Regions from separate parts of the Homo sapiens genome. Here all the other regions are reported to be linked to region 1. Evidence: microRNA targets listed by miRTarBase, many of them from high-throughput screens and not tested one by one. Region 1 holds a microRNA gene; each other region holds the end of a gene's coding sequence.

Region 1 (3,243 bases):
GTGCAGGTACCATCTGCCCATGTGAGGGTGTGCACGTATACACGCGCGTGTGGGAGTGTGCTCGGCACCATCTGCCCACGTGAGGGTGTGCACACGTACGTGCGTGTGCGGGCGTGTGCTCGGCGCCACCTGTCCACGTGAGGGTGTGCGCGTGTGTGCGTGTGCGGGCGTGTGCTCGAGGGGGGGGCCATCTGCCCACGTGAGGGTGTGCGCGTGTACGTGCGTGTGCGGGCGTGTGCTCGAGGGGCCCTGGCCTGCATTGGCTCTTCTGGCTGGGGAGGAGGGGGCCTGCTGGGGAAACCATGCTGGAGCCCCTGCGGGACCGAGCAGCTCCACCCCATCCTCCAGAGGCTGGACCGCACAGCATCCCCGTCCACGAGCAGCATCGACTCCGCCACCGACACTCGGGAGCGTGGCGTGAAGGGCGAGAGTGTGCTGCAGCGTGTGCAGAGTGTGGCCGGCAACAGCCAGTGCGGCGACTGCGGCCAGCCGGACCCCCGCTGGGCCAGCATCAACCTGGGCGTGCTGCTCTGCATTGAGTGCTCCGGCATCCACAGGTGGGCCCCTGAGGGCCAGGCTGGGGGTGGGGGTTGGGCTGGAGCATCCACAGGTGGGCCCCTGAGGGCCAGGCCGGGGGTGGGGGTTGGGCCGGAGCTGGGGGCCTTGCCTCCCCCAGACTCATCCCTACCTCTGCTCTCCAGGAGCCTGGGTGTCCACTGCTCCAAGGTGCGGTCCCTGACGCTGGACTCGTGGGAGCCTGAGCTGCTAAAGGTGCGTGTGGGGCTCCTGGAGGCCACGGGACCCCGTTTGTGGGGGCGGGAGCTGGGGTCTGCAGGTTCGCACTGATGCCTGCTCGCCCTGTCTCCCGCTAGCTGATGTGTGAGCTTGGAAACAGCGCTGTGAATCAGATCTATGAGGCCCAGTGTGAGGGTGCAGGCAGCAGGAAACCCACAGCCAGCAGCTCCCGGTGAGGTGGGGTACAGTCTGGATCAGTCAGGGAGCCCCAGCCTGGGGGCACAGCCTCATGTTCCCCCCTGGTCCAGGCAGGACAAGGAGGCCTGGATCAAGGACAAATACGTGGAAAAGAAGTTTCTGCGGAAGGCGCCCATGGCACCAGCCCTGGAGGCCCCAAGACGCTGGAGGGTGCAGAAGTGCCTGCGGCCCCACAGCTCTCCCCGCGCTCCCACTGCCCGCCGCAAGGTCCGGCTTGAGCCCGTTCTGCCCTGTGTGGCCGCTCTGTCCTCAGGTGGGAGGCCATGCCCCGGCAGGGCTGGGAGGGGCTTGCCTTGGTCGGGGATGGACTCCGTCAAGGGGCTGGTGGCAGGGCTCTGGGGGCACCTCAGGCTCCGCAGACTCCCGGCGTGACCTGGGGTTCCCTGCCCCACCCCGGGCCTGTTCCACACTCTGAACACGCACTGCCCCTGCAGTGGGCACCCTGGATCGTAAGTTCCGCCGAGACTCCCTCTTCTGTCCCGACGAGCTGGACTCGCTCTTCTCCTACTTCGACGCAGGGGCCGCAGGGGCTGGCCCTCGCAGTAAGTGTGGGGTGGGCCCAGCCAGGTGGCAGGGCAGGGCCAAGGAGGCTGGCCTGAAGGGTGCCTGAGTGTGGATGGCCCTTGCCAGGGAATGGAGCAGCATCTGAAGGGGCGGGGGGCCTCCTGGCCACACAGCTGGAGGCCAAGGCCCTGACTGTCAGGGGTGAGCTGTGCAAATGTGTGTGTGGGCTGTGTGCACCTGGGTGTGTGCACACAGCGGGTGGCCCGGGGTGCTGGGGAAGCAGAGGGCGCTGCCAGCCGGCCCTCAGCCTAGGGCCCTTCTGGAGCCATGCTGCCCGTTGGTTGGGTGGAGACATTTCAGCCTGGGCCAGCCACAGACGGGGCTGGGGGGCCCACTGCGGGGGGTGCCGGGTAAGGCGGCGAGCGGGAGGGAAGGGCTTCCCAAAAGGCCTGGGCTTTAGGGGGCTACCCCTGGCACCTTTGAGCTGTTATTTGGTTTTCTCTCCTTTGCTCCTAGCCTGCAGCTGGCTCCCCCCGGCCCTGGGTGGGAGCTGGTCCTGTCCCTAGGGGTGGCCCCTGGAGGGTGGGTGGAGTTCCAGCCTTGCCCCAGGGCTCTGGACGGAGTCTGGGCCTCCCACCCTCAGGACCCCCTTCCCTGCGGACCTGCAGGTCTGAGTAGCGACAGTGGCCTTGGGGGCAGCTCGGATGGCAGCTCGGACGTCCTGGCTTTCGGCTCGGGCTCTGTGGTGGACAGCGTCACTGAGGAGGGTGGGTGGCGTCTTGCCCTCGCCCGAGGCCCCTGCCCAGCCCCTGGGCAGCCCCGGGGGTTGCTTTCCCTGACCGCCCCCTCCCCACAGAGGGTGCAGAGTCGGAGGAGTCCAGCGGTGAGGCAGACGGGGACACTGAGGCCGAGGCCTGGGGCCTGGCGGACGTGCGCGAGCTGCACCCGGGGCTCTTGGCGCACCGCGCAGCGCGTGCCCGCGACCTTCCTGCGCTGGCGGCGGCGCTGGCCCACGGGGCCGAGGTCAACTGGGCGGACGCGGAGGATGAGGGCAAGACGCCGCTGGTGCAGGCCGTGCTAGGGGTGAGCGAGCCACGGGGGCTGCGCGCAGGACACAGGTGCACAGTCGCGTTTGCATCTTCTGTGGCGCCCACACAAGGGTCGCCTGTCCGCGGTGGGGACCACGTTCGGTCCCGGCTGGGGGCGCCCAAGGCCGGGGTCAGGGTGCAGAGGCGCGGAGAGGGGCCGGTGCCGTGGCTCCGTCTGAGTTGCCCCGGCTCCCCAGGGCTCCTTGATCGTCTGTGAGTTCCTGCTGCAAAACGGAGCGGACGTGAACCAAAGAGACAGCCGGGGCCGGGCGCCCCTGCACCACGCCACGCTGCTGGGCCGCACCGGGTGAGACGCGCAACCCACGCCCCGCCCTGTGCCCCGACCACGCCTACCCCGGCCCGGCTACGCCCTGTCCGCCATGCCCTATCCGGCCACGCCCCCGCGACCACACTCGCCCCGCCCCGCCCCGCCCCGACACGCCCCTCCGACCTCGCCCCTCAGCCAGGTTTGCCTGTTCCTGAAGCGGGGCGCGGACCAGCACGCCCTGGACCAAGAGCAGCGGGACCCGTTGGCCATCGCAGTGCAGGCGGCCAACGCTGACATCGTGACACTGTGAGCGCGGCCGGGCCCTCGGGGCTGGGCGGGGCCTCCAGGGCAGGGGCGGGGCCTCCAGGGCAGGGGCGGGGCCTCCAGGGC
Region 2 (3,243 bases), not on the chromosome of region 1:
CCCACCTTGGGCTCACAAAGTGCTGGGATTACAGGCATGAGCCTGAGCGCCCCCAATTGGGTGGATTTTGATTGCACATATGGAGAATAGCACTTAACAGTTTACAAAGCACTTCATCCTCCTAACATTCAGTAAAATACATTTTATCGAAACTCTCCATTAACTATAACTTCCTCTTGCCCAAGTCTAAAATGTTCAGGGAAGGTCCATGCCCTTTTTTCTCTTGCATTTTTCCTTCATAGGAAGTATGAGAAGATGCTTTTTCTCCACTCAGCTTGAATCATGCTTTTGGTTTTGTCTCTGACAGATGCAGCTGTCTTCTCCTCAGTGCTGGCGCTCTGACTACCCTTCCCAAAGAACCACGGCCCTCTCCCTTTACTGTTCTATAGCCCCAGAACTGGGAGATGGCTTCCTAAGTTGGCTATACCTTGTCCACTTCCAGTACTGGACGTGCTCAGGGTCTAGGGTCACAGATGGTGCTATTAATTGAACTGGAACACAGCAGAATTGTTGCAAAGGTTCTAGGAGCCAGATTCATTCCTTCTTCATTCTTTGCAAAACAGTGGTACAGACATGGAGTCTAGAATTGACCCAGATGGAAAGTAATTGGTATTCTTAATATCCTGGGTGACTAATATCCAGGCAGAGAAGCTCCTGGAACCATAACTGTAAGTTCCTAGCTGGCTAGGGATTGAAGTCCTGGACAGTGACAGAGGATACCACAGTAGTTCAAGACTTAGCACAAGTCACCAACTGCTTCAGGGATACCTGGAGGGGCCAGCAAGTAGAGTGTTGGTGGCCCAAGCAAACCAGTGTTGCCAATACCATTGCCAAAAGGGCCTTTGGATCCTGGACAAAGCTTGGCTGCCGGCTTCATTTATTCCTGCTGATGGCTGAGAAGCATCTGTCTTCCATCCCACTTGCCTGTCCCAAGTTTTGTTCCATTTTTTAAAAATTTGTTGTAAACTGCATGTTTTATAAAATAAAAATAAAATATCGTTTGTTATTTATCTCATTAGAGAACTGCTAGTGTGGGTTCTCTGGCTTCAGTCTTCCTCTCCTTCCTTTGAAGGTAAAGGTCCGGAATCCAAAGTTATGGATATGAAAGGGTATAATTAGGCCGGGCGCGGTGGCTCACTTCTGTAATCCTAGCACTTTGGGAGGCAGAGGTGGGTGGAACACGAGGTCAGGAGTTAAAGACCAGCCTGACCAAGATGGTGAAACCCCGTCTCTACTAAAAATACAAAAATTAGCTGGGAGTGGTGGATGGCGACTGTAACCCTAGCTGAGGCAGAAAATTGCTTCAACCCGGGAGGCGGAGGTTGCAGTGAGCCGAGATCACGCCACTGTATGCCAGCCTGGGCGATAGGGCGAGACTCCGTCTCAAAAAAAGGGGAAAAAGGTATAATTTATGCCTTTTCTGGGCAATGCTGGGTCTTTGCTATAGCTGCCCAGTACCCTAAGTCAGACTGAAGATGTACAGTATGGTTTCCGTTAATTGTGTAAGCCGACAAACTACAGGTCCCAGGATAGCTTGAGACTTGTAGTTGCTCACAAAGATGGGTCCGGTGCTGCGGTGCTTCCTGGGAGATGTAGTTTCCTGTGTATTGAAACCTGGACTGCTCGCTGGCCGGCAGCGCACCGTTTTGAAGGTCCTAGCCCACCTGGGCTGGCTCACGCGCACGACTAGCCGCTCCCATACAGCACGCCCGGACTCTGTCGTCGCTTAAGGCCACTCCTATTCTACGGCTGACCCCTGGTGGTCACGTGGATCTGTTCGCCACGCAAGTCTGGGTCCTTCGGCGATTGACCGGGGTCCTTGCTGTTCGGGAGCCTCTCCTAAGCTGCCTGTTCGCGCGAGAGTTTGGAGGGGCGGGTTTGGGGTCGGTGTCTGATTGGGGCTCGCACCGCAGCACGCTGGAGTCCCGCTTAGGTACCAGTTAGCGTCAGGGGAGCTGGGTCAGGCGGTCGCCGGGACACCCCGTGTGTGGCAGGCGGCGAAGCGCTCTGGAGAATCCCGGACAGCCCTGCTCCCTGCAGCCAGGTGTAGTTTCGGGAGCCACTGGGGCCAAAGTGAGAGTCCAGCGGTCTTCCAGCGCTTGGGCCACGGCGGCGGCCCTGGGAGCAGAGGTGGGACGGATGCGGGCGGCGAGGCGCTGGGCGCTGAGGGTTGGGGATGGACTGAAGCGAAAGCAATGGCGGAGTCCTTAGAAAGGGGGCTGGTGTCCGTACGGGTAATCACTTACGGGCTGGAGGTGGGGACGCAGGAATCTTCGGTGCAGGATCCAAATGGGCCCTAGTTATTGCTCTCCTCGCTGGCCTCCTGGCCTGACTGAGGGCTCCCTGCCGGCAGTTCCCTAGTGCCTGTAGTCCTCACGTAATCGCCAACTTACCTCCTGTAGCTGCCACAAAGCCCCGTGAACCCTAGGCATGCAGTGCTAAAGTACCAACACTTAGGGCCTCACCTATCCACGTAGAGTCTGGGGCTGAGCCGCAAGTCCTGAGCTCGCGCTCCCACCCACCACCCTGGGGGAATCAGAGCCCTCAAGCGCTGGAACAGAGAAGCCCCTTTGTGTCCCGGCCATTTCCTGGAAAGTAGAGCCAGAGTCACAATGAGGCCTTTGAAAGCCTTGGGGTGAGGATTGGGGGGGTCAGGGAAAAATGGAGTCGGCTCCTCACACTTATGTTTTATTCCCACTCAAACCCAGGTGGAGCGACCCCATTACGCTAAAGATGAAAGGCTGGGGTTGGCTGGCCCTGCTTCTGGGGGCCCTGCTGGGAACCGCCTGGGCTCGGAGGAGCCAGGATCTCCACTGTGGAGGTAAAGGCACAACGGGAAAAAGAAGTGGAGGAAGCAGAGCCTTGGGAGGGCATGAGATCCAAGGCCTGGGAGAAGGATGAATGGAAATCCTGGGTTGATCCCATTCTCCTCACACCCTACCCCCTACCCTGTCCCCTGCTCTCATTCTCTCCTCTTCCACCAGCATGCAGGGCTCTGGTGGATGAACTAGAATGGGAAATTGCCCAGGTGGACCCCAAGAAGACCATTCAGATGGGATCTTTCCGGATCAATCCAGATGGCAGCCAGTCAGTGGTGGAGGTAACTGTTACTGTTCCCCCAAACAAAGTAGCTCACTCTGGCTTTGGATGAAATTCGACTGCTTAAAAAGGACCTTGGTTTAATAGAAATGAAGAAAACAGACTCAGAAAAAAGATTTGGCTCTGTCTCATTTGGAAGAAGCT
Region 3 (3,243 bases), not on the chromosome of region 1:
TCATACAGTGTGTTTTTTTTCCTGCTTGCTACAAATATTATTGTTGTCTTTTTAGCTTGTCAACTTGATAGTTATTGCATTAACATTTTAATTTTCATTTCTTTCCTTATTGTTGAAGTTGAATTCTGAAGCTGCCTATGATTGTTGTATTAAATGCCAAAATATATAATGTTGACCAAAAATGCGTTGAGCATTTAAAAAATGGAGGTGTCTTTGTAGACCAGAGGTGATGGGTTGAGAATATATTTTGCCAAATCCTGCAATTTCACTGCTGGAACAGATGGTTTAGATGCAACGTGAGGTTATACTGGGAGTGGAAAGGTGGAGGGAAGGAATTATTTCTTAGATTCAATAACAATTTTTTACTCACGTAGGTTCTTAAAGGTGGACAGGAAGCACCCACAAAACCCAAAGGTCGCCCCAAGAAGAACTCCATCCCCACATCAGAAGAGATTGAAGCTGAAGAGAAGATGAACAGCCAGGCCCAGGGTCAGGAGCAGCTGGAGCCCTCTCAGGGGCAGGAGGAGCTCTGTGAAGCACAGGAACCGAAAGCACGTGATGTCCCCTTAGAGATGGCAGAGCCACCAGACCCGCCCCAGGAGTTGCCAATACCCTCTTCGGAACCCCCACCATTAAGCTAAAGTAAAACCCTTTTGAGGGAAGAGGGAGACTGGGGAGAAGGGAAAAGAGAGAAGGCAGGGAGAGTAGGGAGAGAAAACCTTCCAGCAGCCCAGTAAACTGCGGGCGAAGAGATCTACCCGTCTCCCTCCCTCCCACAGTTACCATTGGCCTTGTCATCGCAAGCATTTGACAAAGACTTGCTTGTCTTGGGCCTGTCACCTCCTGAAAGGCTGCTTTAGCTGTGGATGCCCTTGATTAAGGGAGAGAGCGCCTAGGAGCTGCCTGCCCCAGCTGGGGTGACGGCTGTAGGGCTGGGTCTATGTTGCAAGCCCTATATCCTAGCATGCAGTGGAAAGTGCTTAGCTCTCTCCCTCCTGACCTCTGGGCAGCCAGTCATCAAAGCAGAGAGACGTGGCGGCATGTGGGCAGCATGCCCAGGTTCCTTGCTGACTCAGCACTTATTTCTGTAGTTTTAAAAAAGAATTTAATGTTTTTGGTTGTATTTTTTTGGGGGGGTGAGGGTGGGCAAAAACATGGGGGTAGTTCTGAGTTGTTAGAAATGTTTCTGAATCAAGTTTGTTTGAAGACACGTGTGCCTTTGTACCCATTATAAGATGGTCATAAGACCCAAGAACTGATAAGCTTTGGTTTTTTTTTTGTTTTGTTTTGTTTTTTGCTTCATTTACCCATTCATGCCTAGGGTTCCATTATTGGAACCCTAAGCTTGTGGGAGTTATTTCTATCCTACTGCTCAAGGTCATCACCAAGATCTGATTTTTCATAAAAAACATTTGTGACCTTCGGCATAAATGGGTTAAGGTGCCATCCCTGAAACTGCAATGCAGATATGTTCAGATAACTTTTATTTTTTAATTAAAAATAAATCTTTCAAAAGGATTGAGTGTTTTGTGTCTTCTGAGGAGTGTATCTAACCCTTCCTGAATGTGTCCTATGGGAAGAGAGATCCAGAGAGTGAACCAAACTAGGGGGGCCACCTTTTCCCCATCTATAAAACAAAGGATTGGGCCAGGCCATTGGTGTCCAAGTGCTGAGAGCTGTGGGAGTGGAACCGAGCCTCCGGGATGAGGACAGGGCAGAGTAGCTAGGCTCTCCCTTCCACCTCTCCCACCGCCTTCTGCCAGAGCAGCTCCCTTCTCAGCCGCTTCACATTTGGGGCGTCCAATGGTCTTACTTTTTTAAAGAGGTAAGAAATGTATATGCTTCAAAAGTCAAAACTATAAAAAAAGAAGTCTTGGGCTGGGAGCAGTGGCTCACGCCTGTAATCCCAGCACTTTGGGAGGCCCAGGCAGGCGGATCACCTGAGGTTGGGAGTTCGAGACCAGCCTGACCAACATGGAGAAACCCTGTCTCTACTAAAAATACAAAATTAGCTGGGTGTGGTGGTACATGCCTGTAATCCCAGCTACTTGGGAGGCTGAGGCAGGAGAATCGCTTGAACCTGGGAGGCGGAGGTTGCAGTGAGCCAAGATCATGCCATCGCACTCCAGCCTGGGCAATAAGAGCGGAACTCTGTCTCAAAACAAACAAACAAACAAACAAACAAAAAACAAAAAAAAACTTGCTTCCACCCTGCCCTCTCCTCCCCTGAATCCCCGGTAGGTAATTATTTTTATTGGTTTCTTGTTCATCTTTCCAGGGTTTCTTGACTAAGTATTCATTTGGATGATGGGCTCTGCAACTTTTAACAAAAGAAGACCTGAGAACTACTTGACTAGATGTGCTGGGTGATTTTAAATTTAAAAATTGTGTTCCACGTTAATTTAAGACCAAAAAGAAGGAGGCTCTAGATTTCCTAGCAGGAGGACTCTGCCTCTGTTTTTTTTTTGTCTGATTCTCATGCATTCTGGCCCAGAGCCTGATCTCAGAGGGGTCACCTTTATGATCACTGCCCCAGCGTGCTCACCTGTGATGGCTTACAGGGCCGAGTGCCCATTTAGTGGACTCTCAGTTATTAATTACACACAAACTCTGCCCAGTTGCAGGCTTGGAGAATACCAACTTTCAACAGTGGCCTCAACAAGGAAGCCAAATCTGTTACTACTTCTGTAAAACAATCACATAATTCATTTCAAAGTTAAACAGGAAAGATCCGCGTGTTTTCCATCACCTGGCAGGCCGCCTGCTTTTCTCCATTAACAATCAGAAAGTGACTGCAATTTTGACTTTGCCAAGGCAGTGCCTCATCCCCTTTGTTATTGAGATCAACAGAGAAAGCAGTCTTTTTCTTAACTCTTGTGAATAGACAAAGGAGGGGAGGATTTGGCTTCTGAGAACCAGTTTGAGCAGACCACACCTAGCTGCCTGTGCGAGGTTGCTTGCACCAAGCAGGCAGAACGCTGTCTCCTCCACCTGTAGCCCACCCCATGGTACAGTTTTATGATCTGCCTACCAGGTGGTGTCACAATGAGCCAAAGAATGTGCACAATGGCCAAAGTAAGCCGGTGGGTCAGTGTTAGTTCTGTGTCAATCCTAAGGAAGTGTTCTGTCCCATTCGCGCCACCCCAGAGAGGCCTCCTGTCTGGATGCTGGCTTCCCAGGATGGTGTTCCATCTCTTGCCCTGGGCTCCCATGATGTCCTTTTCTTTTTTTTTAAGTTCAGGG

The links. The annotated mature microRNA hsa-miR-6726-3p reads CUCGCCCUGUCUCCCGCUAG and lies in region 1 at 853-872, shown strand. An mRNA with a match to its seed (bases 2 to 7 or 8) in the 3' UTR can be bound and repressed. Matches are read on the target gene's strand: a 7mer-m8 pairs with bases 2 to 8, a 7mer-A1 pairs with bases 2 to 7 and ends in A, and an 8mer does both.
Region 2: miRTarBase lists PAN2 as a target of hsa-miR-6726-3p. The part of its 3' UTR that is shown has no 7-base or 8-base seed match.
Region 3: miRTarBase lists BARX2 as a target of hsa-miR-6726-3p. Seed matches in the 3' UTR shown: 7mer-A1 at 743-749.

Annotation. Positions count from the first base shown.
Region 1 is chr1:1,293,739-1,296,981 of GRCh38, reverse strand. It overlaps MIR6726 (microRNA 6726), which reads left to right and starts at 812; the gene lies at 812-872. It overlaps ACAP3 (ArfGAP with coiled-coil, ankyrin repeat and PH domains 3), which reads left to right. Exons shown (of 24, transcript NM_030649.3): 15 at 349-557; 16 at 702-771; 17 at 873-967; 18 at 1,044-1,246; 19 at 1,428-1,535; 20 at 2,166-2,264; 21 at 2,354-2,580; 22 at 2,783-2,892; 23 at 3,049-3,159.
Region 2 is chr12:56,314,708-56,317,950 of GRCh38, reverse strand. It overlaps PAN2 (poly(A) specific ribonuclease subunit PAN2), which reads left to right. Exons shown (of 26, transcript NM_014871.6): 26 at 308-1,015. The coding sequence ends at 342. It overlaps CNPY2 (canopy FGF signaling regulator 2), which reads left to right and starts at 1,963. Exons shown (of 6, transcript NM_014255.7): 1 at 1,963-2,130; 2 at 2,709-2,821; 3 at 2,985-3,100. The coding sequence starts at 2,734. CNPY2-AS1 (CNPY2 antisense RNA 1) reads right to left here. Exons shown (of 2, transcript XR_002957416.2): 2 at 3,143-3,243. RefSeq lists enhancers at 1,610-1,759, 1,840-1,889, 1,390-1,978.
Region 3 is chr11:129,450,762-129,454,004 of GRCh38, forward strand. BARX2 (BARX homeobox 2) reads left to right here. Exons shown (of 4, transcript NM_003658.5): 4 at 375-1,518. The coding sequence ends at 641. Among named protein-coding and RNA genes, the nearest start is that of BARX2, 77 kb to the left of the region's middle. RefSeq lists an enhancer at 2,556-3,057.